Linked DNA regions of Homo sapiens. The protein of the gene in region 4 interacts with the protein of the main gene of each other region in a pairwise test. Each region holds a gene or a part of one and is shown on either strand. Other genes may lie near its edges.

What was found.
Region 1: the proteins of COQ8A (region 4) and OGFOD2 interact in binary tests that used the Homo sapiens proteins (3 or more experiments, as listed by UniProt).
Region 2: the proteins of COQ8A (region 4) and LDAF1 interact in binary tests that used the Homo sapiens proteins (3 or more experiments, as listed by UniProt).
Region 3: the proteins of COQ8A (region 4) and SHOX2 interact in binary tests that used the Homo sapiens proteins (3 or more experiments, as listed by UniProt).
Region 5: the proteins of COQ8A (region 4) and COL2A1 interact in binary tests that used the Homo sapiens proteins (3 or more experiments, as listed by UniProt).
Region 6: the proteins of COQ8A (region 4) and LHX5 interact in binary tests that used the Homo sapiens proteins (3 or more experiments, as listed by UniProt).
Region 7: the proteins of COQ8A (region 4) and DTX2 interact in binary tests that used the Homo sapiens proteins (3 or more experiments, as listed by UniProt).

The regions. Positions count from the first base shown.
Region 1 is NC_000012.12:122,973,900-122,978,043, forward strand, and holds the start of OGFOD2 (2-oxoglutarate and iron-dependent oxygenase domain-containing protein 2), read left to right. Parts: upstream 1-1,344; 5' UTR 1,345-1,352; coding exon 1,353-1,484; intron 1,485-1,911; coding exon 1,912-1,968; intron 1,969-2,353; exon of another isoform or gene 2,354-2,493; coding exon of another isoform or gene 2,494-2,502; intron 2,503-2,754; coding exon 2,755-2,868; intron 2,869-2,971; coding exon 2,972-3,071; exon of another isoform or gene 3,072-3,267; intron 3,268-4,081; exon of another isoform or gene 4,082-4,144.
Region 2 is NC_000016.10:21,175,674-21,178,394, forward strand, and holds part of LDAF1 (lipid droplet assembly factor 1), read left to right. Parts: intron 1-1,463; coding exon of another isoform or gene 1,464-1,485; exon of another isoform or gene 1,486-1,488; coding exon of another isoform or gene 1,489-1,561; exon of another isoform or gene 1,562-2,721. UniProt on the Homo sapiens protein: Plays an important role in the formation of lipid droplets (LD) which are storage organelles at the center of lipid and energy homeostasis. In association with BSCL2/seipin, defines the sites of LD formation in the endoplasmic reticulum.
Region 3 is NC_000003.12:158,099,921-158,103,420, reverse strand, and holds part of SHOX2 (short stature homeobox protein 2), read left to right. Parts: exon of another isoform or gene 1-193; coding exon of another isoform or gene 194-194; intron 195-534; coding exon 535-743; intron 744-3,109; coding exon 3,110-3,167; intron 3,168-3,472; coding exon 3,473-3,500. UniProt on the Homo sapiens protein: May be a growth regulator and have a role in specifying neural systems involved in processing somatosensory information, as well as in face and body structure formation.
Region 4 is NC_000001.11:226,967,794-226,971,293, forward strand, and holds part of COQ8A (atypical kinase COQ8A, mitochondrial), read left to right. Parts: intron 1-3,500. UniProt on the Homo sapiens protein: Atypical kinase involved in the biosynthesis of coenzyme Q, also named ubiquinone, an essential lipid-soluble electron transporter for aerobic cellular respiration.
Region 5 is NC_000012.12:47,997,977-48,001,476, reverse strand, and holds part of COL2A1 (collagen alpha-1(II) chain isoform 1 precursor), read left to right. Parts: exon of another isoform or gene 1-492; intron 493-1,351; coding exon 1,352-1,558; coding exon of another isoform or gene 1,559-1,561; intron 1,562-3,045; coding exon 3,046-3,062; intron 3,063-3,275; coding exon 3,276-3,308; intron 3,309-3,412; coding exon 3,413-3,445; intron 3,446-3,500. UniProt on the Homo sapiens protein: Type II collagen is specific for cartilaginous tissues. It is essential for the normal embryonic development of the skeleton, for linear growth and for the ability of cartilage to resist compressive forces.
Region 6 is NC_000012.12:113,465,372-113,468,871, reverse strand, and holds part of LHX5 (LIM/homeobox protein Lhx5), read left to right. Parts: intron 1-467; coding exon 468-745; intron 746-1,450; coding exon 1,451-1,616; intron 1,617-3,500. UniProt on the Homo sapiens protein: Plays an essential role in the regulation of neuronal differentiation and migration during development of the central nervous system.
Region 7 is NC_000007.14:76,496,209-76,499,708, reverse strand, and holds part of DTX2 (probable E3 ubiquitin-protein ligase DTX2), read right to left. Parts: intron 2,373-3,500; coding exon 2,232-2,372; intron 1-2,231. UniProt on the Homo sapiens protein: Regulator of Notch signaling, a signaling pathway involved in cell-cell communications that regulates a broad spectrum of cell-fate determinations.

The DNA.
Region 1 (4,144 bases), on a different chromosome or scaffold from region 4:
CTGGGCGTGGTGGCGCCTGCCGATAATCCCAGCTATTCGGGAGGCTGAGGCAGGAAAACTGCTTGAATCCGGGAGGCAGAGGTTGCAGTGAGCGGAGATCGCGCCACTGCACTCCAGCCTGGGTGAAACTCTATCTCAAAAAGTAAATAAACAAATAAATAAACTGATAGGTACAACACACTCATCTTGCAAACTGCTGCAAACGGAGAGGGGGTGAGGGTGGGGTGGGGTGCTGCATGTGCCAGGCCTGCCTGGTGGGTGGCTGGGGAGCCGACCTGCCCTGGGCCTCCTGGGGAAAAAGGGCAGTTAGGCGGGTAATGAACATTGATCTGGGGAAATGGATCCTTTCCTAGATAGCAGGGCCTCTCACTATCACTGGGCAATCAAGACGACTGTAAAACGTTAAACACCTTCTCGGGCCGGGCAGCTCTGCACGAGAAAACCCCAAATCCCACATACTTCCACCACTCCCAGAAGCCCTGTGGTGGTTAACTGGGGAACTCTGTAGGGTTCAAACGCCATATTTGCCCCTTACTGGATGTGTGACCTGCGGCGGGTCCCTGTGCCTCTCTGGGTCTCAGTTTCCTCATCTGTAAGACGGTGATATAATAGTACCTAGCTCAAAGGTTTAATGCTGGTAGATTCCTGAGCAAAGGTCCGGGGAGAGAAGAGGCTCGGTCTGCAAGAGTTGTCATTTGTTGGCTGCGGTGAGACCACGCCCCGTCGCCCTCCCACACCTGACCCCGCCCTCCCGCGTCCATTGGGAACGCCACCGGAAGTAATGCGAGACGGAGCGTTTTGGTGGAGACACTCACTGGGGCAATCTGAGGTAATCCAACAGACTGTGGCGGAGGGACCGGAAGCGCCAGGCAGGGACCCGGGGTAGATGCTAAATCCAAACTGAAACGTACAGGGCTGGATGATTGAAGCACCAGCGGGAACTAGTCGGACCTCCGAGCTCTTTAAACTGTCCTCAGCTCGGCTGGTTCTCCACGAGCTCCGGGCAGACGGCGGGGGGTGGGTCGGCGTTTAAGTCAAAGGCCTTGGGGCTCCGAGTCCCTTCCTCTCCCCGTCCTGTGAAGGCACGACCCAGTTCAGCTGTCTGTAAAGTGGAGCCATTAGTCCCTGCCTCGTAGTGGGAAAACTGGGAGGCGGAACGAGGAGGCCGCCGGTCCCAACCCGGCCCAGGAGCATCTTTCTCCGCAGACCGTTTCCTGGCGAGGTGCGTCTTCGTCCTTTTCCGCCCTTGGGAACTTAGAGCGGCCCCTTGGCCGCTGGTTCCGCGCCTCCCGCGGTTGGGGGCGTGCCCGAAGTCTCTCTACGGAAGCTGGTAGGGCTGTGGGTGCTTCACTATGGCGACGGTGGGGGCTCCGCGGCACTTCTGCCGCTGCGCCTGCTTCTGCACCGATAACTTGTACGTGGCGCGCTATGGGCTGCACGTGCGCTTCCGAGGCGAGCAGCAGCTGCGCCGGGACTACGGCCCGGTGAGTGGCCGCTGTCGTCCCTACGGAGCAGTGGGCAGAGAGGGGTAGTGGAGGAGGGAAGTTCGTCCCCAGGGTCGTTTGCTTTGCGCACGCCGCGCACCGTATCTTCAAATACAAGAATGACGGCCTCTCTCTGCCTCGGTTTTCTCACCGTAAAGGGGTAATAGTATCTCCCTGTGAGATTGTGAGGAAGGAATGAACAAGCATGTAGGGTGCTTAGGACAGGGCCGGGCTCAGCTTGCCGCCTCACAGCAACACCAGCCCGGAGCCCTGTCCTGAGCTTGACAGGGTTCCGCAGTTCATTCTCTCCATGATCCTTTGAGGTCGGGGCTCCTCTCCCCATTTTAAGCAGGGGAAACTGAGGCTTAGAGAGTGAAGGGATTTCCTCAGGTCATACAGTCATGCTCAGTGTTCTTTCTGCTCCCAGATCCTGCGCAGCCGAGGCTGTGTTAGCGCCAAGGACTTCCAGCAGCTGTTAGCAGAGGTACCAGTCCCCTGCCCCTGCACAGCTCCTCCTCGTTAGATTTGTGTCCGCAGCTTGAGGACACAGCTTGAGCCTAGCCTCAGTCCCTGATCCCTGAAGGGTCACTTAGGCCCTCACTTTCCTCCTTCCTGCCCCCCACTCATCCCTCCACACCTGAGTCTTGGCACCAGGAGAGAGAAGGGGAAATGCTAAGTTGCTAAGTTGCCTAGTCATGCCGTTCTTAACAGCTCTGTGAGATAAGCACAAGCACCACTCTCATTTTGGATTGAGAAGCTGAGGCTTAAAGAGGGATCCCTTGCCCAAGCTTTTACAGCAGGAGCAGATGTGATCCCAGCCACAGCTTCCAGGCCCCTGGGCTCCTCACACCTTACCATATACCCCGCAGGCTGCTGCCAGGGCTGCTGCCCCACTCCCTCCTCCTCCTTCCCCTGGAGTCAGTGGTGGGAAGCTTCCCAGGAGAGTCCTCAGCAACCTCTGGAACACAGGACTTGGCCATGACTGTCTCCTGTCCCTGTGTGGGCCCAGATGGTTGAGGTACATCTAGGGGTTCTCATCCCAGCTAGGCTCAGGTTGGGGCAGCCTGAAACAGGATGGGTCCCCTTCTAGAAGTCCCTTTCAGCTAACAGTCTGGAACTTGCAGTTGACCCAGATAGATTCAGGAGTGTAGGCTAGACTTGGCTTCCAGCCTGGGCCCTGTCTGGCGTTCTGGGCTTCAGTTTCTTCATCTGTACAGTGGCCTCAGGAGGATGGGAGGCCCCACCTGGTAACAACCCTGTGCCACCCCAGCTTGAGCAGGAGGTGGAGCGGCGGCAGCGGCTGGGGCAGGAGTCAGCAGCTAGGAAAGCCCTCATCGCGAGTTCCTACCACCCGGCACGGCCTGAGGTCTACGACTCACTGCAGGTACCAGCCAGCCAGAGTGCTTGAAGGCCGGTACTGGAAAGAGGAGGTAGCATCCAGGGCTGGGGGTGCTGCCTGCCCCACAGCTGGTGTGTTTTGCTCCCAGGATGCAGCTCTGGCCCCCGAGTTCCTGGCCGTGACTGAGTACAGCGTGTCCCCAGACGCAGACCTCAAGGGCCTTCTCCAGCGGCTGGAGACAGTATCGGGTGAGGTCCTGGCCCTGAGACCTGGCAGGACCAGGGAATGGCAGCCTGGGAAACCTGGGTGTGGGATGCTGGGGTCCCTCCAGCCACCATCTCTGCCTCCAAAAACCAAACCAGCAGGAGCTGGAAGGGTCAGTGGGACCAACCTGCCAGGAGCAGGACATCCGCATTCATTCATTCAATACCTGCCATGAGCCTGGTATCTTCATTCTTTCCTTCACCCTTCCTTCGTGCCCTCATCCAGCAAATAGTGGATATTTGTGTCATGTGTGGGACAGCTGGCACACTCAAACAGGGCTGATCCAAGATCTTAAAGGGACCATTGAGACAGGTATGGGCAGGATAAAGGGACCAGTAAGGAATGGCAAAGCCCGGCCCCCCAGGGCTGGCAACAGGAGGGAGCAGTTACCACCTGGAGTTGTGGCTCTGGGCGGAGGCCTGCGGCCATGCCAAACTCCAAGTAGGGCAAAAAATGCCCCACTTCTCTTCGGATTTCTTGCTGGGCTCACTTATTGGCTAAACCCAGCAGGAAATGCTGGGCAAGGGAGGTTTGCGTGTTGTTTAACCTCTGATTCAGTTTCCTCATCTGTAAAATGGGAGCAACAGTAACCCCCTCTCTTAAGGCACTGCGACGATCAAGTGAGTTAATCTGCATAGAGTGCCTGTCACAGGGCCCGCACGTAGTGTTTGGAAAGTGTTTCCTATTCTTATTGGCACTGATAGCCTGGGCTAGGGGCTCCTGTGGGAGGCAGATACAAGTTTCCCCTCATGGAGCCTGTGCTTTGTTGGGAGTCATGGGTGGAATGAATCCCCCTCCTCCCAGCCTGGGGGTGCTCTCCTCATTGCCTTCCACTCCCCGGCAGCTGAGATAGTGCTGAGGCTGTTGGCTGGGGCAGGGCCTAGGCTGCGAGGTGGCCCCATCGTGGGCACACTAGCCCTGCACCCCTGGGCATTGGTGCGTCCGCCAAGAAATGTTTAGGTTTCCATTCTCAGCCTGGTTTCTTCCCCCTCAGGGCCCAGCAAGAAAGAACAGCCCCTTCTGGCCTTCCTGCTGGGGGACAGAGGCTCCCAGAGCC
Region 2 (2,721 bases), on a different chromosome or scaffold from region 4:
AACCATTGCTCTATAAGAACTGATATCCTGAGTTTTGTTTTTCTACAAAACAGCCCTTGAACTCCTTACCAAAAGTTTATCCTGTTATTATTCCTATGTTGAAAAATAAAGGGTGAAGTGGGTATAATATAAAATTGCTCAAGGATGGCTCTTATAGGATTGCTTAATTGAATCAACCCTGGAGTCATAATCACCTTTTCAAAAATCGCTTTGATCACTCTTAGTCTTTTGTTTGTTCATTTGTATTTTACTTATAAAATGGGGTCTTGCTGTGTTGCCCAGGCCATTCTCAAACTCCTGGCTTCAAGCAATCCTCCCCCGTTGGCCTCTCAATGAACTGGAATTATAGGCGTAAGGCACTAACTCACTCCCAGTCTTAAAAGATGTAAAAGGAGAAATATTGGCCTATTTTGCATATTGAGGGTGATGCTTCTGAAATAAAATTCCTCCCTGCCTCTGAACGCTGCTGTAACAGGGTGAGTTCTTAAAGATTATACCACAGGAAGTAGCAGAATCTGACTCCCTACTTATCAATGAAGAAATTGAAAAACAAATCCAGGATTTGTACTTGATCTCCTTATCTTCCCCTATTGCTGCCAACCAATTGTTTCCACGTGGGCAGAGGTTCTTAAGCTTTTTGTTCTCAAGTCCCATTTTACCTTCTTAAAAATTATTGAGGCATCTGAAGAGATGTTATTTATGTGGTTAATTGTATTAATAGCACTTTGGGAGGCCAAGGAGGGAAGATCACTTGAGGCCAGGGGTTTAAGACCAACCTAGGCAACATGGCAAGACCACATCTCTACAAAAAATACAAAAATTAGCCAACTGTGGTGGTGCGTGCCTGTAGTCCCAGCTACTCAGGAGGCTGAGATGGGAGGATCATTTGGGCCCAGGAGTTCAAGGCTGCAGTGAGCTGTGATCACACCATTGCACTCCAGCCTGGGCAACAGAGCAAGACCCTGTCTCAAAAAACAAATGAAATGAGCTGAAATATAAAATAAATAACTAACATGACATAAAACTATATACAATAAAATAAATTAAAATAAACATAACATAAATTACATTAAATCAAATTAAATATTAGCTGGTGCATGCTTGTGGTCCCAGCTACTCAAGAGGCTGAGGAGGGAGGATGGCCTGAGCCTGGGAGGTTGGGGGTGCAGTGAGCTATGATTGTACCACTGCACTCCAGCCTGGGTGACAGAGCTAGACTCTGTCTGGAAAAAAAAAAAAAAAGAATATTAATAATTATTTCTTTTTAAAAAATTTTCTTCCTCATTGTTTCTTGTTCTGAAATAATTATTCTATGAGAAATCATAGCATAAATTTTAAAAATATCTATTCATTTAAAAGGAACAATATTACCTGTTGATATAAATAACAAATTTTAATGAAAAGTAACTATATTTTCCAAAACAAAATGAAATTTGTGAGTGGTATTATTTTACATTTTACAGATCTCTTTCATATCTGCCTTAACAGTTGTCAGCCGGCTTCTCGTTTGTGTGGCTGCATTCATTCTGTTGTGCTATGTTGTCCTGTTTGGAGTATTTGAAGAAGACCTAGCATCACTAACATGCGGTTGGGAGAGGGAGGCAAAGCTTTTTTAAACGATTGTGGATATTCTATGATAGTCCACCAAAACTCCGTAAGTGATAGTTTCTTAAAGGTTAGCTGAAATGTGAAATTTTTCTACTCTATTTTATTGAAATCTTCAGGTCTGTGTCACACTTTAAATTGATCTTTATCATGCATGATTTTCTAACTTTACCCATTGGTCAATGGGAGAATATCAATTCATTGAGTCATGCAGATCTTCCAAATATATTTTGAAAAATTGCACTGTTCCCTTGTGAGAGAATGTGAGTGAAAAAGGCATATAATAGGTCATGTTATTGTGAACATGGTTTTCATCTGAGAACCCTTGCATTAGCGAATTCTTTTTTTTTTTTTTTTTTTTGAGACGAGTCTCACTCTCACCCAGGCTGGAGTGCAGTGGCTTGATCTTGGTTCACACAACCTCTCCCTTCTGGGTTCAAGCAGTTCTTCTGTCTCAGCCTCCCGAGTAGCTGGGATTATAGGTGTGCACCACCATGCATGGCTAATTTTTGTGTTTTTAGTAGAGGTGGGGTTTCACCATGTTGGCCAGGCTGGTCTTGAACTCCTGAGCTCAAGTGATCCACCCACCTCAGCCTCCCAAGATGCTGGGATTATAGGTGTAAGCCACTGTACCCAGCCTGCATTAGTGAATTCTTTATAACTCAAAAAAAGATAACTCCCTCATTAAATGATCGAAAGCATGGAATGGGGGGAAGAGGAGCTATATAATTTATTTCATGATTTAATGGAATTTTGGCCCTAAAACATAAAAGATAATACAGCTTAAATTTTTAAAAAAGAAAAGAAAAAGGAAACAAAACTGTAAGTTTCCCTTACATATGAAACCCAACTAAACAATATTTAGATCAAATACACTGACCTGCCTCCTATGTAGATCAGCTAGCCTCTGAGGGGCAAAACCACACTGCTTGGTTATGGAGACTGCAAGACCTTCCAGGGCCTGCAGCTCAGGAGAAGTAGGGGCCCTGGGCAGCTGTGTTTATTTGCAGAGCCACCAAACTCACTACCCCATATCATAATCTTCCAAACCAGCCTGAGCATAACTAGCTTCCTTACATCTTTACTAAGAAAAGGAAAGGCTTCTTTCTTAGTTTT
Region 3 (3,500 bases), on a different chromosome or scaffold from region 4:
CAGCAAGTTTGCGGTAGGCAGAGAGCCAGCGGTGGTGAGAGCTGGCCTGAGAACGAGCCAGCCTTCTGGGAATGGCCGGTGTGAGAGGCCAGTGGGTGGCCTTGCCGCGCCCTTATGTCCAGACTTTGCTCTGTGAGAGGCCTGGCGCTGCGCCTTTGATTTCTGTGAGTGCTGCGGAGCAAGTGAGTGCGAAAGTGAGTGGAAACCATTTGGTGTTTGCTGGGGAAGGCCGGTGACTGGGGGGTGAATAGTGAGGCGGTGAGTCGAGGTACGTTTGTGAAGGAGGTGGTGGATGACTGCCCACCTTGCCCCAGGCGGCCGCTCAGACTTGACCTTTGCGCTTCTCCGGGATATTCTTCCTCCGGGTGGGTTGAGAAGCCGGACCAGGATTCCACGAGGGGGAAGGATTCTCTATTCTTTTTTGCGACAAATCTGGTAACAGGATTTGCTGTGCTGTTTTCGTCCGTGTGTGTGTGCGTGTGTGTGTGTGTTCGTGTGGATGCACGTGTGGCCCCGCTGGGGTGCCCCCTCCAGTGTCCCCGGAGCTGAAAGATCGCAAAGAGGATGCGAAAGGGATGGAGGACGAAGGCCAGACCAAAATCAAGCAGAGGCGAAGTCGGACCAATTTCACCCTGGAACAACTCAATGAGCTGGAGAGGCTTTTTGACGAGACCCACTATCCCGACGCCTTCATGCGAGAGGAACTGAGCCAGCGACTGGGCCTGTCGGAGGCCCGAGTGCAGGTACCCAGCTGCCAGGAGGTCGAGGGCCCAGGGAGCAGAGAGAGCCTGGGGTTGGAAAGAGGCTTGGGGGACACACTCGGGAGGTGGTGCTTCTAGTGTCTGGTGTAAGATGAGAAGGAAAGAGATATCTTTACTAGAGGTCTTATTTTCCAAAGTAGATCTTAGTCCTATAGCACTCCCCTCCTTTTTTTTTTTTCCATCCTAACATATGTTCCCAGAAGAAGAAAGCTGTGCTGGGCTTTCTCCCAGAGTTTCTATAAACCACACCCCCCTTGCCTCGCACTGGCTTTAATGTGGTTTAATCCTAATGGGCCTACTTTTATAAGGCTTAAAAAAAAATCCCACAGAAAACGTTTTATCTCTGGATGCCTTAAAAGTTCCAAAGAGTATTTTGTTCTCTGGAGTTGGATTTCCTTGAAAGTCTGCTCTGCAGGGTCTAGGTTTGTCAAGCGGATATCCCAATTAGGTTTATAGATGTGCAGACTATAAAGAAAATTAGTAACTGTTAAGTGCAGAAATTTACAGTCTGCTGTTAGCGGTCGATCTCAAACTGTGTGTGAAATAGCGGAGAAATAAACGCATTTTGGTCACTCTTTGTTCATTCATTTAACCAAGGCAACGAAACTGACCCTAAATACATTAGATTTTAAAACAAACCACATATATTAGTATTTATATTTCCAAAGCCTGCCCTCCAGCACGTGCCATACCCAATGAAGTTAGGACTGAAACAGATTTTCTTTATTGGTTGTGGAGGCAAATGTAATAGCAAAAATAGGCTTTGGGGGCATTTAAAGGAGCAAATTGTGTACATTCACATACACATATCCTTCTAGCTTTAGGGGGAACAAATTTAAATGTTTCAGATTGTATTTCCGCTCAGATAATAAAATAGAATAAAATGATAGTTATTATTGGTTTGAACACATGGAGCAGTTTTAGGCCCGCACATCTGCAGCTGTTACAAAGTATCGCTGTAACAGATACTCTTTCGGTCTCTGGGCACAGAGACCACCATCTGTAGCGAACTATGCACAATTCTTAAGGGGCTTCCCCACATCTTGTAACAGGATCAGGAAAAAAAAAAACAGAGCAGTCACGTTGAAGAGGAAAAGTAATAATAGGCTGCCTTGGTCATCACAGCATCAGCAGCAGAGCCTTCCTTTTTAAGCCTCTCCTGCTTCGCTCTGTGCACTGAGATCTCCAGAGGCTCAGCAACCCCTTAAAAACATGATGATAATTATTACAGTTATGATTATTAGTATCTTAATTCCAACTCTTCTAGGGGAAAAAAAGGCAAGAAGCCTCAGGCCATGTGAATTACACAAAGGATGCCACCCTGGCACAAAATCCACCCTCTGTTGTACTAAATAGCAGAGAAATTTTTGAAGATTTACATTGACTATGACACTTGCTTTCAAAAACATACCAATGAAAGCTCTGAAGCAGTATTTTTACTTTAATGGGGTTTTAAAAACTTTAATTTGTGAGTCAATCAATATGCTTTATTATTGAAAGTGGAATACAAAAGCAAGCTTTATTTGAATTTTAAAAAATCTGTCATACTGCCTGTAAAAGTTGTCAAGTTTAAGCAGGTAACATCCAGGAGAACAAAGTACCTAAGAGTTACTTGCTTTATATATACTTCATTCTCCTTTCGCTGAGTGCTCTTCTTTTTTTCTCTTAAGAAGTGAACTTTATTGTTGTTTCATACTTTTATTTACATTTTAGTTATTTTCTAGATGTTTTCCTACTATCCTAACTGCAAACAGTGGCTTTTTCTAAAGAAGCAAATTAGATTATCATGATAATGGTGCACAATTATTCTGCTACTGTGTTTCACTCTGCTGCACAGCAGAACAGAGAAATTCTAAACTTCTTTGTAGTGAGGCTTTTATGACACTAATTACCTCTCCCCAACCCTTACAACTCCTTCTCCGCAAAGGAGTCATTATTTGCTCTGGTGTTTGGTTTTTCTTTAAGATGAAGCTAATTAACATTACAGGCTATTAATGAACACATTCTTCTCAGGTCTTAACTGGGCAAATATCTAAACCATTATCATGTTGGTATCAGGTACCAAGCAGAGTTTTAGGCCATGGGGACTCTGTTATGTGAAAAGATGAAATCAGGACTAATAGTAATCTATCTTGTGAAAGTCTATAAAATCTATCTTTCTATTTCTGTAGTTAATTTACATGTTTAACTTTGGAATTTGAGGCTGTTTTATACAATTCAAAGATTGCTTGCTGTATCTCCCAATTCTTGTCTAAACCACGACTCTTTTCTCTTTGTACTTTTGTAATTTAAAAAAATTTTTAGTCATAACATCTAGGTTTTATTTTTTTTCCCCCTCCAACCTATAGGTTTGGTTTCAAAATCGAAGAGCTAAATGTAGAAAACAAGAAAATCAACTCCATAAAGGTATGCTTCTTATACAAGGAACATTTGATAGTCTGAGCAAAGAGAGAAGTAGTGAATATTACTATTACAATGACAGAAAAAAAGGAACCTCAAAAATGACAATAGTTCTTGACTTAATAATCTTCAAAGGCTGTTAATGGAGTCCTAAAGTTTGGGAGTAAGTTACATTTATTTAAATTTTGGATGCAGTTTAGAAAGATAATAGTCCATTTTCAAAGGAATTCGTTCTGTCTTGTACCCTTTGGAACCCTGAAAAATGCTACAAACGTTAACCTCACATTATTTTTCTCTTGTACTTTTTACAGGTGTTCTCATAGGGGCCGCCAGCCAGTT
Region 4 (3,500 bases):
CTGTGGGTGTCTGTGTGCTGGAGGATTGCCCACAGCTATGATTCAGAGATGCTCATGTTGTTGCCCAAGCAATTGACAGATGATGTTTCAGGCTTGGAGATGGCAGGATGGGAGCAAAGAGAAGCCAGGTCAGGAAAGAACGTGCCGTTCTGGCCCTAGTGGGGAATTCTGGGCCTTCTGGCTCACCCAGTTGAACCTTTCAAACTGTAGGTTATGACCCTTTAGTAACTGTGAAATTAATTTAATGCATCAGGATCAGCATATAAAAAACAAGTTAACTGTAATCTCAGCACTTTGGGAGGCCGAGGTGGGAGAATCACCTGAGGTCAGGAGTTTGAGACCAGCCTGGCCAACATGGTGAAACCCCAATTCCTACTAAAAAAATACAAAAATTAGCTAGGTGTGGTGGCATGTGACTGTAATCCCAGCTACTCGGGAGGCTGAGGCACAAGAATTGCTTGAGCCCAGGAGGGAGAGGTTGCAGTGAGCTGAGATTGCGCCACTGCACTCCAGTGGGGGCGACAGAGTGAGACTCTGTCTCAAAAAACAAGTTAAACAGAATGGAATTCAATAGAAAAGATTAGAATTAATATCGTACATCCTTACAATGAACTATACACATGGCAAGATATTTTAGTTTCAGAGACATACATACTATTTAAGTATGTTCTTCACTACAATGTGAAATATATAGCTTACTGGTGGGTCATCATCCAAACAGTTTGTAGTTGCACTGTTGCGCTTTGTTCTCCTAGAAAATACCTCTAGCCTTTCTTCCCTTCATGGAGGAAAGGTGTTTTTCAGGTGCAGACTGACAGACTTTAGGAAGTTTTTACACGGGGTTATGAAGGAAAGGGATTGCTCTAGGTCTCAGGGAGGTAGGGCTGCTGCAGGGACCCAGACGGGTTTTCAGCGAGGTTGGCAGTAGGTATTCAGCTATATAGAAGTGGAAGTCAAGGACTTTCCAATTCCAGGGGCTCATTTTGATGCTGAAATGGGGGCGGGGCATGAGTCCTAAGTCCAATTTGGCTATGGGACATTATGACTGTGATGCTATGGGCAGGATGATCTGTGGATATTAGATTTTCTTAAAGAGTGGTGTGAAAGAAAGGGTCATATATTGGATATGGGGTCAGAACTGAACTTTAGTTCATCATAATAGCTGTCCTTTGATTACAACTGTGCTTCCAGTGTGACCTTGGGCTCTACCGTGGTTTTCTCTTTTGTAAAATAAGGGTCTTGCCGTTGATTCCAAATGGGAATATTTTGGTAAATGTTCCATGTTTACCTGAAAATAATTCATGTTGAGTGCAGTGATCCGTCTATCTAGTCTGGTTTATTATTCATATTGATCAGATTTTTAAGTGATTTTGGTTTGCTTATTCAATAAGCTATCGAGAGAGGCATTAAAAAGTCTGCTATGATTGTGGATTTACCTACTTTTAGTCTATTGACTTGTGCTTTATATGGTTTGAAGCTATGTTATTTGTTGCCTACAGATTCAGAATTCTTTTTTTTTGTTTGAGACAGAGTCTTGCTCTGTCGCCCAGGCTGGAGTGCAGTGGCACAATCTTGGCTCACTGCAACTTCTGCCTCCTGGGTTCAAGTGATTCTCCTGCCTCAGCCTCCCGAGTAGCTGAGACTACACGTGCGTGATAAGTCTCGATCTCCTGACCTCATGATCCGCCCGCCTCGGCCTCCTAAAGTGCTAGGATTACAGGCGTGAGCCACCGCGCCCGGCCAGATTTAGAATTCTTCTTATATCCTCCTAGGGATTGACCCTTCATTCTTATGTTATGCCTCTTTTCATCTCTGTGAAAGTCCTCATTGTCTGATATTACTATAGCTACATTCCAGCTTTGTTTTGGGTAATGTTTGCATGTTACCTTTTTTTTTTCCCCTGTACTTTCAACTTTTAAAATGTCCTTATGTTTAATGCATATCTATGAGCAGCATATATAGTTGGTTTTTTGTGTGTTTTAAGTGTAGACTGATAATCTTACAATGAGAATATTTAGTCCATTTACATTTAAATGCAATTGTGGATGTATTGGAGTTTATATCTACTACCTTAGTTTTTGTTTGTTTACTATTTGACCTGTCTGTTATGTCCCCCTTTTTCTCACCTGTTTTGCCTTCTTTTAAATTAATCAAGGACTTAAAATTATAGTCATGCGTCTCTCTTTTTTTTTGGAGACAGTCTCGCTCGGTCACCCAGGCTGGAGTGCAGCGGCGTGATCTCGGCTCACAGCAACCTCAGGCAATTCCCATGCCTCAGCCACTCGAATAGCTGGAATTACAGGTGTGTGCTGCCATGCCCGGCTAATTTTTGTAGTTTTAGCGGAGACAGGGTTTTGCCATGTTGGCCAGGCTGTTCTTGAACTCCTGGCCTCAAGTGATCCACCTGCCTCAACCTTCCAAAGTGCTGGGATTAAAGGCATGAGCCACCGCACCTGGCCCTCATGTGTGTCTTAACAAGGATTCAGTCCGAGAAATGTGTCGTTAGGCAGTTTCATCATTGTGTGAACATCATAGAGTGTACTTACACAAACCTAGATGGTATAGCCTGCTACATGCCTAGGCTGTATGGCATAGCCTGTTGCTCCTAGGCTACAAACCTTTACAACATGTTACTGTACTGAATACAGTAGATAACTGTAATACAACGGTATTTGTGTACCTAAACATAGAAAAGGTATAGTAAAAATATGATACAATCTATCACTGTCGTATATGCAGTCCGTTGACTGAAATGTTACATGATGCGTGACCGTGCATGTTCTCTCTTTGTTAGCTCTTATGTTTTACATTCCTTTACGGTTCTTTTGGTGATCACTCTTGAGATTACAGCACGCATCTTGACTTATTACAATATAAAAATAAGTGATTATTTTTACTACTTCTCCAATGATGCTAATACCTTAGAACACTTTTTAGATATTAAGATATATTAAACACCACAAGAATTATTTCTTTGTACAGCCCATATGAATTTAGATTTACCCACATATTTGCCCTTTTTTGTGTTTCTTTCTTCCTGCATTTCTATAATTTTATTTGGTATAATTTTCTTTTTCTCTGAGGAACTCTCCTCTCTCTTACAGTGTAGTCTGTTAATCATGAATTCTTTTAGTTTTTATTTATTTTTTATTGATTTATTTTTTGAGATGAAGTTTTGCTCTTGTCACCCAGGCTGGAGTGCAATGGCGTGATCTCGACTCACTGCAACCTCTGCCTCCCGGGTTCAGGTGATTCTCCTGCCTCAGCCTCCTGAGTAGCTGGGATTACAGGTGCATGCCACCACACCCAGCTAATTTTTGTATTTTTAGCAGAGATGGGGTTTTGCCATGTTGGCCAGGCTGATCTCGAACTCCTGACCTCAGGTGATCCACCCACCTCTGCCTCCCAAAGTGCTGGGATTACAGGCATGAGCCACCACACCCGACCTAGTTTTTATTTTTTTGAAAATGTCATTATAGCTGGGCACGGTGGCTCATGCC
Region 5 (3,500 bases), on a different chromosome or scaffold from region 4:
CCACACCTTCCTCACCGCCTGCATTCCACTGCTCCAGCTATTTTAACGGCGGGTGTGTCCCCGCAACTTCTGTATTTTCCCTGGAATCCCTCACCCTCCTGTGATTATCTTGCCCAAAGGCTAGGCGGATTTCTTCTAGTGGGAAAGTAAAAAGGAAAGTTTATCTTTGGATTTTCACTCTCTTTAAAGAGCAGTGGGCAGGCTCGTTTCTTTCTCGCCCTCTGGGTTTGTGGCTCTTTCCTATTATTCATCCCCTGCTGCTGCTATTGCCTTGGGGATTTTGATGAGAAAAACAGCGCTGGGCGCTCCCTAGCACGTGGTGCGGGCTCTACAGCCCTTGGCTGCTAAGGAGCGCTCTTGTCAGCACAGGTTTCATTTGCAGCATGAATTCCAGACGGCAGGGCGCTGGTGGAGGAGACTAGTCCCTGCTATTCTTCCTCTGCAGTCTTGGAGGAGGCCAGGCCTGGACTGGCCAATCTTAGCCCTAGCCAGGTATTCAACGACCCCTGCTCCCCAAACTGGGGTGCTGTTTTCAGATGGAGGCAGGGCCTCTCCAGGCAGGGCTACAGGTGGAGGTCAGCACTGGGGGCGCTTTGGCTCCACTGGCCTCCTAAGCAGTTTATTAGCCTGCCCAAGCCCCAAGTGTATTGTTTGAATGGGTCTATCCCCCTCCCCAAATTGGTCCTAATTCTAATATGGTTCAAAGAATGAGACAAGATCCTAATTCTAATAGCTCGTCTTTTCACCCCCCTTTCTTATATACCTATTTTTGGAGCCTCACTGCTTATAGATTCCAATTTTTGTAGGTAGAATTTTCTACATTCCCTCTGAATGTTAGTTGTCAGTTGTATTTAGCTAATCCCATAATTCCCAGAGGAAGGCAGAAGAAAGAAGACTTCTCTGCTCCTGGGCTGGTGGAAGGGAGGTCTCGCCATTTTTCTGTCTCCTTTCTTTTTATAGTCCCAGAATTCCTATTCAGAATATCTTGTCTCCTCCCTTCCGCTCACCCTCCAACTCCCTCCACCCACTCCATCACCTGGTCTCCCCCGTATTAGGTGGGTAAAGAGAATATAGTATAGTAACCCCCCACCTTCATTGCTGGGTCAAGATTTTCACTGGTGAATAGACAACATGGTGCAAGGTGCATAATAAATATTTGTTGAATACATGGAAAAATCAATGATGTTTTAGGAAAATAATTTTTAAGTTCTATATGTCCAGGTGGCCCCAGCCTACATTCTTCAGCATTTGAATTCTGTCAAGTTGACTGCAACCTCTCTCTTTTTCTCTCTGGCTCCCCACCCCCTCCTTCCCTTGGCTCTCTGCTTCTCCCTCCCCACCCTTGGTGCAGAGGAGGCTGGCAGCTGTGTGCAGGATGGGCAGAGGTATAATGATAAGGATGTGTGGAAGCCGGAGCCCTGCCGGATCTGTGTCTGTGACACTGGGACTGTCCTCTGCGACGACATAATCTGTGAAGACGTGAAAGACTGCCTCAGCCCTGAGATCCCCTTCGGAGAGTGCTGCCCCATCTGCCCAACTGACCTCGCCACTGCCAGTGGTTGTAATTTATTTATTTCCTGTTCAACATAAATAAATTACTTGCAAGCACTGCAAACACGCTCCCATAGATGCTGGTCGTCTCTGCAAAGCAGAGGGGCTAGTTATCCATGGGACCTGGTAGCTGGGGTAGAAAGGAAAGGCCACTTCTCACTTGCAGGTTGAAACTGAGTGAACGAGCCTGAGACACTAGAGGGGTCCTTCTTTGCCCAACATCTCCAAAAACATTTGCTTCCAAGACACATGAAGGACAGATGTGATTCTACAAAAAAAAAAAAAAAAAAATCCTCTCTGAAATCATCTCTGCAAATTACTAGAGCCACTATGGAGATCAAATGCTCTGTCTGGCCAATCCACGAATTAATTCCTCCTCTGCCACCGACACCTTGTCTTCTCCTTAGAAGACTTCTATGTATGTGGTCTTCAGTGTGGAGAAAGCTCTGCCAGCTAGTGGGGAGACTGCAGGGGCAGAGGCTCCCTCTTTGAGTTATGGAACATTGGTGGTAGTTTCCTCTCTGCTATTACCTCTCTTGGAGTTGACCATTAATTCAGAAGCAAAATAATAGGAGAGGGAAGGGCTAGGCTTTGGGAGTTCTCGTGGGGACGGGTGGAGACAGAGCCCCATGTATCTGCACTGTAGTGGGTGGTTATAAACTCCCAGTTAGATCCAGTGCTGGTGGATGATATATGTGCAGGTGACCCCTTCCCAGCATTCATACAGATGTCCTATCTCCCTGCAGAGTGAGTGGGGACGCTTGTGTAGGTTTTTTGGGTAGCTCTTGCTGTCCGCTTCCTGCTGAAGTAGAGAAGGCCGTGGCAAGGGAAGTGAGAAGCTGCCTTTCCTTAACACTTCACCAACACTGGCTCCCTAATGTGCAGATTCCCAGATCCTTTCTGAGGGGCCCGTGTGAGTGAAGTGTTGATTGCCTTTACTATTTTGCTGCTACTGTGAAGGAGAGGTTATTGACTGGGGATGGCACAGGCTATGATGCTCCGATGCTCTTCATAACTCATATGCCTTGCTGTTTTTGTGTTTTTATTTGTGCTTGCTTCAAGGAGACCCAGCTCTAATGTAAGACCTTTCTAAGTACCTAACTCTTCCTCTGGGAGGGCTTGGGGTTCGGGAACGGCTCCCTACCCTGTGGGGGGAAGAGAGACTGAATCTGTGCTTTCCTTCTTGTGGCTGATTAGATCTTGAGCTCTTCATTGCCTTTTTGTGCTGCCCTTGCTCCTTTCTTTTGCATGCTGCCTGCTTTTTGAATAACAAAGTCTGGGTCACCTCCATTCCTCATGGGACCTCAGCAACCCCAGGGCCACAGTGGCCCTAACACCCCAACAGAGGGGTTCAGTGGAGTCACAGGAAGCTGCCGCCTTCCTTGATTGTGTCCTTTTACTTGTTTGATCTAATGAGTGTTTGAGTGACAAGAATAGGTATTTTTCCATCTCAAGATTCTTACCTTCTTCTTCTCTATATTTTTTCCCTTGCAGGGCAACCAGGACCAAAGGTAAGGGCTTTCTTCTTTTTCTTTTTTCATATTTTTTTGGCTTTATATTTTCTGCTTCAAAAGCAATGCTATGTTAATCCAGTCTGTGATTTTTTAGACATCAGAAGATATCTGTTTCAGAGGGTACCTCAACACAGGGGCTGCTGGCAGGGTTTTAGACTAGGGGCTTAGTGGGCTTACTCGGCTTAATCCTGTGAATGTTTCATGTTTCAGGGACAGAAAGGAGAACCTGGAGACATCAAGGATGTAAGTGCAAATTATTCTCACCCGGTATTGCAGCTGCTGCTCTAAATGGGTCATTTCCTTGTGCTCTCCTCTAACTTACCATCCTGTGGGGCTCTCTCTCACAGATTGTAGGACCCAAAGGACCTCCTGGGCCTCAGGTAAGAGAGGGAGAAATCTCTTTCTCCGTCCCTTCCTCGCTGCGCGCAAGTTACT
Region 6 (3,500 bases), on a different chromosome or scaffold from region 4:
GTTGCCCTCCTCCCCTAATTTGGAAGCGCACAATTCCCCCTTATGTGTCACTTGAGCTCCAGGTAATTTCTTGATGCACTGGAAGGACATTAATTGAGGTCTGGAGAGAGGAGGGAAGAGAGAGGAAGATCCAAGCCCCAAGGGAATCTGTGCCCTCCTTGTCCCCTCTCCTTGAAAGTGGGAGTTCTCCAGAGGGTACGCGTCCCCCTACCCTTACCCAGGTACTAGCTGAGACGCGCGGAGAGGGCTTAAGAGCGCCCCTCCAAAGGCCCAGCCCCGCCTGGAGAGAGTGGGCGGGCACCGGGTCCCTGGGGGAGGGGCTGTCGCAGGTTTGGGAGGGAATCCAGCGGGGCTGGCCGTAGCCTGGGCAGGCCGTAGCTTGGGCCGGCGGGAACCCGCCACTGGACTGAAGAGGCGTCTGGCCGTCGCTGACGCCGCTGTCCCCTTCCCGATCCGTCCGCCCGCAGTGTCATCCTGTACGGACCGCAGTTTGTCCCCGGACCTCCAGGACGCACTGCAGGACGACCCCAAAGAGACGGACAACTCGACCTCGTCGGACAAGGAGACGGCCAACAACGAGAACGAGGAGCAGAACTCGGGCACCAAGCGGCGCGGCCCCCGCACCACCATCAAGGCCAAGCAGCTGGAGACGCTCAAGGCTGCCTTCGCCGCCACGCCCAAGCCCACGCGCCACATCCGCGAGCAGCTGGCGCAGGAGACCGGCCTCAACATGCGCGTCATCCAGGTGCGGCCCGGGGCGGGCACAGCTCCTTAGCCCCGCTGGCCTGGGAGCCGGGAGCCTCGGAGGAGTCTCCCGCCAAGCTTCCTTGGCTACGAGCGCGCCTGGTTCTGGTCTGGGAGCAGACCGTGCGCCCGAGTGGGGCACTTGCCCGAGGTCGGGGACTGTGAACCGAAAGATTCCATCTAGCCCTGCTGTCCTCCTGGTATTGCGATTTGGGGGCGGGTCACTTTACCTCTCTGAATTCCGCCCCCCGCCTTGCTTATGGAAGGTTGTAAGCCTCTCTGGGGTCCGGGATCCCTCTTTACCTCCACCTTTCGAGCAGAGAAACAGGCGATGCCCCCTCCCTCCCTGCGCCGAAGCGCGGGCAGACAAACGGCCAGAGGCTGGCTCCGGAGCCGAGGGGCCGAGGCGAGAGCCGTGCCGGGAGGGAGGCCTTTATAGAGCCGTCAGGCCGCGGGCGAGCCGGGGACCAGGAAGCCCAAGTCTTTATGAGTCGCCCCACGGGTCCGCGAAATCCTTCACCCTTGGCTGGTTCGCCGAAGCCTCTCTCCACCCCTCCCGGCCTAATCCGGCCCGGCCCCGCCTCGGGGGAGTCCTGGTGCGGAAGAGGCGCAAGGACCCAGCAGGGGCAGCCCAGTCAGGGAAGGGAGAAGAGGGGGGGAGAGGACACTCCTGATCCTGGGTTCACAGCCCCCTCCTCTGTCCCAGGTGTGGTTTCAGAACCGACGGTCCAAAGAACGCCGGATGAAACAGCTGAGCGCCCTAGGCGCCCGGAGGCACGCCTTCTTCCGGAGTCCGCGGCGCATGCGTCCGCTGGGCGGCCGCTTGGACGAGTCTGAGATGTTGGGGTCCACCCCGTACACCTACTACGGAGGTAAGGGGCGCCCCGGGATTCGCTGTTCCGCACCTGTCCTATTCCGGGAGCTGAGGGCGAAGGGTCCCGGCCAGCACGCTTTCCGCCGCTCCAGAACATCGCCCACTCGCTGGACACACGATCACAGACACATGTACACTCACCCACATGTCCTGGACACAAAATCAGATACATGGTCTCACCCATACAGTGATGCACACAGAAGCACACACGAGATACAGTGACACATTCACCCACGCAGGGCACAAGGTGCACTCACACTTGCGTTCAGAGACTCCAGGGACACACGTCTAGACACGATCGCACGATCACGTATAGGTAAATTCCACCCTCTCACACACAGGTACACTCACGGAGACACAACTCCACAGACGCGCACACTCCCACCAGTCACACTGAGGCCAGTACTGGCAAATCCACATGCATGCGGCCCCCACGGACAGACGCACAGCCTTCCTGCCGCCCTGTGCCTGGTGTACTTGGCATGAGGTGGATTCCGAGCGCTGGAGGGTAGTGTGAGGGGAGGGGATGGGGGTCTGGATTCATTCCAAGCCGCCTGCTCACTAGCATCGAAGGCAGCAACTCCTGTTCCATGTGGCGGGGTGTGTGCGCACAGCATCTGGCAGTGTTAGCCCAAATGCCGGCAGTTGCTCTGGGCAGGACTGTAGTCCACCCTCCAGCCCCGAGACCCCTGGGGTTCCTACAGACTGGGGGCACAAGTGTTGGGCCAACCCCAGATTTCCACCGTCTTTGGGGCTGCAGAGAGCGAGGAGCCCCAGTTTACAAAGGGCTTCAGATGGTGGTACCAGGCTTGGGCCTGGGGTGAGCTGTCCCCTTGCCACCTCAGCTTTTCCTCCTCTCACTTCCCTCACACTGGATTGGTGAGCCATCCCAACTCCCCCTATCCGATTTTTTCAGCTCCTTACCCTGAGCCGCATTGCTTGAGCTCACCAAGCTCACTGTCCTGTTCTTCCCAGGGCTGAGGGCTCAAGAAAGCACCTCTCCTCTTCTATTCTGAAGCTTCTGAATTTGGAGAGACCCCAGGACTGTCTATGTCTGAGAGGCATCTGCACTTCTGAGTTGTAACGCAGGTTAGGAAGAGGCAATTTCTCTTAGAAAGTGGGTTCAGTGGCAGTGTTAGCAAGGCAGGAGCTAGGCACCCAGGTAGACGCAGAAGGGAAGGGAAGATAACCCCATCACTAACCTCAGCACATCCGGAAGCCTGAGGGGGGATTAGACCTTGAGACCGGACCGGGGCCCCTAGAAATTGTGGGCAAAATGCCAGGCTGTGCTTTTCAGGGCAGAGACCCCAGGCAGTGGCAGGGCTCAGGCTGGAGCGCCCCAGCCGCCCAACCCTGGACAGCCCCCCAACCCTGGACAGACCCCCAACCCCGGACAGACCCCCAACCCTGGAGAGCCCGGATGGTGGGCGTGTCTTCCGGAGTCTCCACTCACCGACTCTCTCCACCTAAATTTGCCTCTTTCCCTACAAAATCTGGGCCCGGAGCAGCGAGGTAGTGGGGGCGGTACCGGCCCGGAATTTTTCCCCGCCTGGATAATTAACCAAGGTTTCCCCGAGGACCACTTCGCCCCCGCCCCGACCTATCCCACCGCCTCCTCTCCCTGCGCGCTGGATGAGGTGGGGAGCTGGATACTGGGGGCCCCTCGTTCCCCGTAATGGTGGGGAAGACTCCCCAGCCCCCAGCGAGGCAGCCCCGCCTAATCCGCGCTGGGAGATCCCGGCGGTGGCGACCGGCAGCGGGCGAGAAAGGGGCCGGGCGGCGGGGCCGGCGGCTCCCCGTGGGAGCGCGGACAAAGCCCCAGCTGCGGCTTTTGTGCCCTTTTCAGACGGCGTTTGTTCCAATTACCTCCGGCCCGGCCGCC
Region 7 (3,500 bases), on a different chromosome or scaffold from region 4:
TGGTGAGGATCGGCGCGGCCCGGGGCGTTCTCTAGGTAGTGGGAGTAGCAGAACCACAGAAGCCAGCAGCCAAGCCCGTGCGGGGGTGAAAGAGGGACGGGGAGCCCAGTGCCACCCGTGGAGGCGCTCCTGACAGGGGCTCCACCCCAAGGTCATGGTGGGGCTGCGGTCGTCCCAGACTCCAGGACCAGAAGGGGCTCTGGTTTGAATCCAAGCTCACGGCCTTCAGGGGCTGCAGAGAATTCTAAGCCTGAGGGCTCACAACTGCACCTGCTGAACTCCCTTTACACCAAAAAGGGCCAGGGAGGGGACAGTTTGGCAGGGAGGTGGCGTGGTGGGGTGGAGGCTGGAGTCGGCACGGTTTGTTTAATTCTAGTTCTCTTGCTGTGAACGAATCATGCCACCTCTGAGCCTCGGTTCCCTGATCTCAAACGGGAAAGACGAATATGTAACCAAGCTGGAATTGCTGTGATGGCATGGCTGCTGTGACCTGGAGGGAAACTGCTGGCAAGACCACACCCCCCAACCCCCATCCACACACCCCACACCTCCACACCTCCTCACACCCTACACCTCCATACACCCCACACAGCTCCACACACCCCACACCTCCACACACCTCACACCTCCACACACCACACACAGCTCCACACACCCACCTCCACACACCTCACACCCCACCTCACACACCCCACACTTCTACACACCCTACACACCTCACCCCTCCACACACCTCACACCTCCATACACCCCACACACCCACCTCCATACACCCCACACCTCCACACACACTCCACACACACTCCACACCTCCATACACCCCACACCTCCACACACCCCACACACCCTCACCTCCACACACCCCACACACCCTCACCTCTACACACCCCACACACCCCACACCTCCACACACCCATACAGACTGCCCGAACCCAAATCCTGTCACGGTGGCGAGAACGCCAGACCAGAACGATGGCCCCCAGCTCAGGGTCGCCCTCCGTGTGGCTGGAATGCCCTACTCAGGCTGAGGGGGGCCTTTTCCTTTGGAAAAGCCTGCCAACTCCAGAGCCATCTCCGGGTGAGCCTGGGCCTCGCCTCTGCCCAGCCCTGGTGAGGCCGGGCACAGCATCCCACCCCCGCCCACCCACCCCAGCCCTTGCAGCTTTTCAGAGCAGAAGGGAGCTTTCCATTAGCCACGTGTCTCAGAAGGGGCCAGCCAGGCGACCCACCAAGAGCGTGTCCTTCCCAGGTAAACCCGAGTGCCACAGAAGGTTGCCAGCCCGGGCTGCCAACGAGTCTGGCTCCTCCCCCAGGGCAGGGGAAGGGCAGGGCGTGCAGAGCCCTGGGCTGGGGGCAGGAGCTCGAGGCCCACCCCTCCCTGAGCCCACCTCCTCGCCTGTGGGCTGGAGGTCGGACACGATCGGAAGCCACCCTTGCCGCATGCCAGGCGCTTCGAGTATTTCCTAGACCTCGCCAAGCCCCTCTGCTAAGCGGAGGCTCCGAGAGGACCTGCTGAGATGACACAGACACTGAGGGCCAGCAGGGCCACGGCCACCCTCCCTGCCCGCCACCACGCCCACTCAAGAGCGTCTGGACTGGCCACAGTCCACACTTCCACAGCCCAGGGGTGGAAGCAGGGCCAGCACCCGCTTGGGAAAGGTTCAGAACTTGACCATCACAGGCTGCTCCGAGCAGGTCTTGCTGTAACTCCCTGGACCTGCTGTGGTCCTAAAGCCCCTTCTTCTGTGGCCATGCAACGAGCAGGGCAGGGGTCACCGAGGGACCCCTCTCAAGCAGCCCACGTGGCGGCCACACAGGGCTGGGGGTCAGGGCAGCAGACCTGGGCAGCAGACCTGGGCCGCTGTCTGGGGGCCTTTCCCGAGACACGTGCTGGCCCTGGCGGAAGGGACGGTTGTCCCCGCATCCTGAGCCGGGCGCCGCCTCTCACCCACAACTTGTTGCTTACAAAAATCACAAAGTCCTCAAGAACAAGCCCCCTCATGCCAGCTGTGACTGGAGGAGAGGAGCTGAACTCTGGGGCTGCGGTGGAAAGTCAGCTTCCAGGGGCCGCCTCTGCTGCCGAGCGGGGGCAGGGAGAAGGGCCACTGAGCCCCTTCCCCCAGGAGTCAGGGAGCAGAGAGAAGGAAGAGGGTCTGTGCAGAAGAGTCAGAGGCAGCGAGGCCGGAAGGAGGCTTAGCAAAGGCCAGAGAGCTTTTGGGAACAAGAACTACCTTTCACGGACATTTTCCTCAATCTCTTAACTGAGCCGTGACTTTTGGAAGCCAGACGGGAGGCGGGAGGGCTGGTGGGCTGGGGTGCGCGGCTAAGACACACAGGGAGTCCAATGGCTGACATCAGAACACTCGTCATGCCTGCACGGGTGTGAGAGCAGACACGCAGAGAGGGAGAGACATTAGAAGACTCCTTCGGCATGTGACGCCAACAAACCCTGCTCAGGCCAAGGATGTGACACCATCAATGGCCACGGGGACGCACAGGTCTCCCTGGGGACTACCCAGGCCAGGAATCAGAGGGTGGGGCAGCCTGGCTCATGGTAGCCCTGGCCCCAGAGCCCACAGGTTTCTATAGGAGCAACAGACAAGCCCGTGCCCTCAGTGTGCAGGTGGGCACCGGGGCAGGACCCGTGACTTCAGGAGAGCAGAGGGCGGAGGACGCCACTCCAGGAAGCCGCCCGGGGCACGGGGTCTCCTGGGTGGGGCTGGCTCCAAGGGCTCAGCTTCCCCAGGAGGCCCTGGGCCCTCCTGGCTTGGAGTTACTAGGCCTCCAGCCTCCACTGGGTGCTGTGTGTGCTCCATGCCCCTCCTGGCTGATCTGGGTGCCAGGGCCTTCAGCGACAGCGCTGGGGTAGGCGGGCAGGAACGTGGCCCCTGGGCCTGCTCCCACACTGCAGCATCCCCATACTGTGAGGGCTGGGCTGCAGCAAGGCCCCAGGCTGTGGCTCTGGCGCCCTCGGGCAAGGGTGGGCCTGTGGCCAGCAGCTATGCTGGGACAGACCGGCCACTCTTTCCAGAGCTCACCACTGCCGGATGCCTGCAGGGAACCCCACACTTGCCCTGGGGGACTCTCCTCTGACACTGCTTCCTTCGTGCTCCCTGATGACCCAGCGCTTCCTGGGACACAGCGTGTCCTGCTGGACGAACCCGTTCCTGCCACACCCTCGGCCTACCCCACTTTCCATAGTGCCAGCTCCCCGGTCCTCCCTGTCATCGGTCAGTTAGGTCAAAAGCACCTCCTCTCCAGAGAAAGGGGAAGCCTAGAGCTTCTTAGCCATCTCTTAAGGTGGCTTCCAGGGTCTGCAGAACCTGGCTCAGGAGCTGGGCACAGCCGGCTGCCGGGGGAGTTGGTAGAAATCCCAGTCCTCCTGGACCCCACTCCCCATCCAGGAACAGATGGCGTGACTCAGGGGTGAAGGGCGGCCAGGCCAGCCACTGCGCCCCCACTAGAAGAACAAAGCTTCTCAACCCGGCACATGTGCCTGG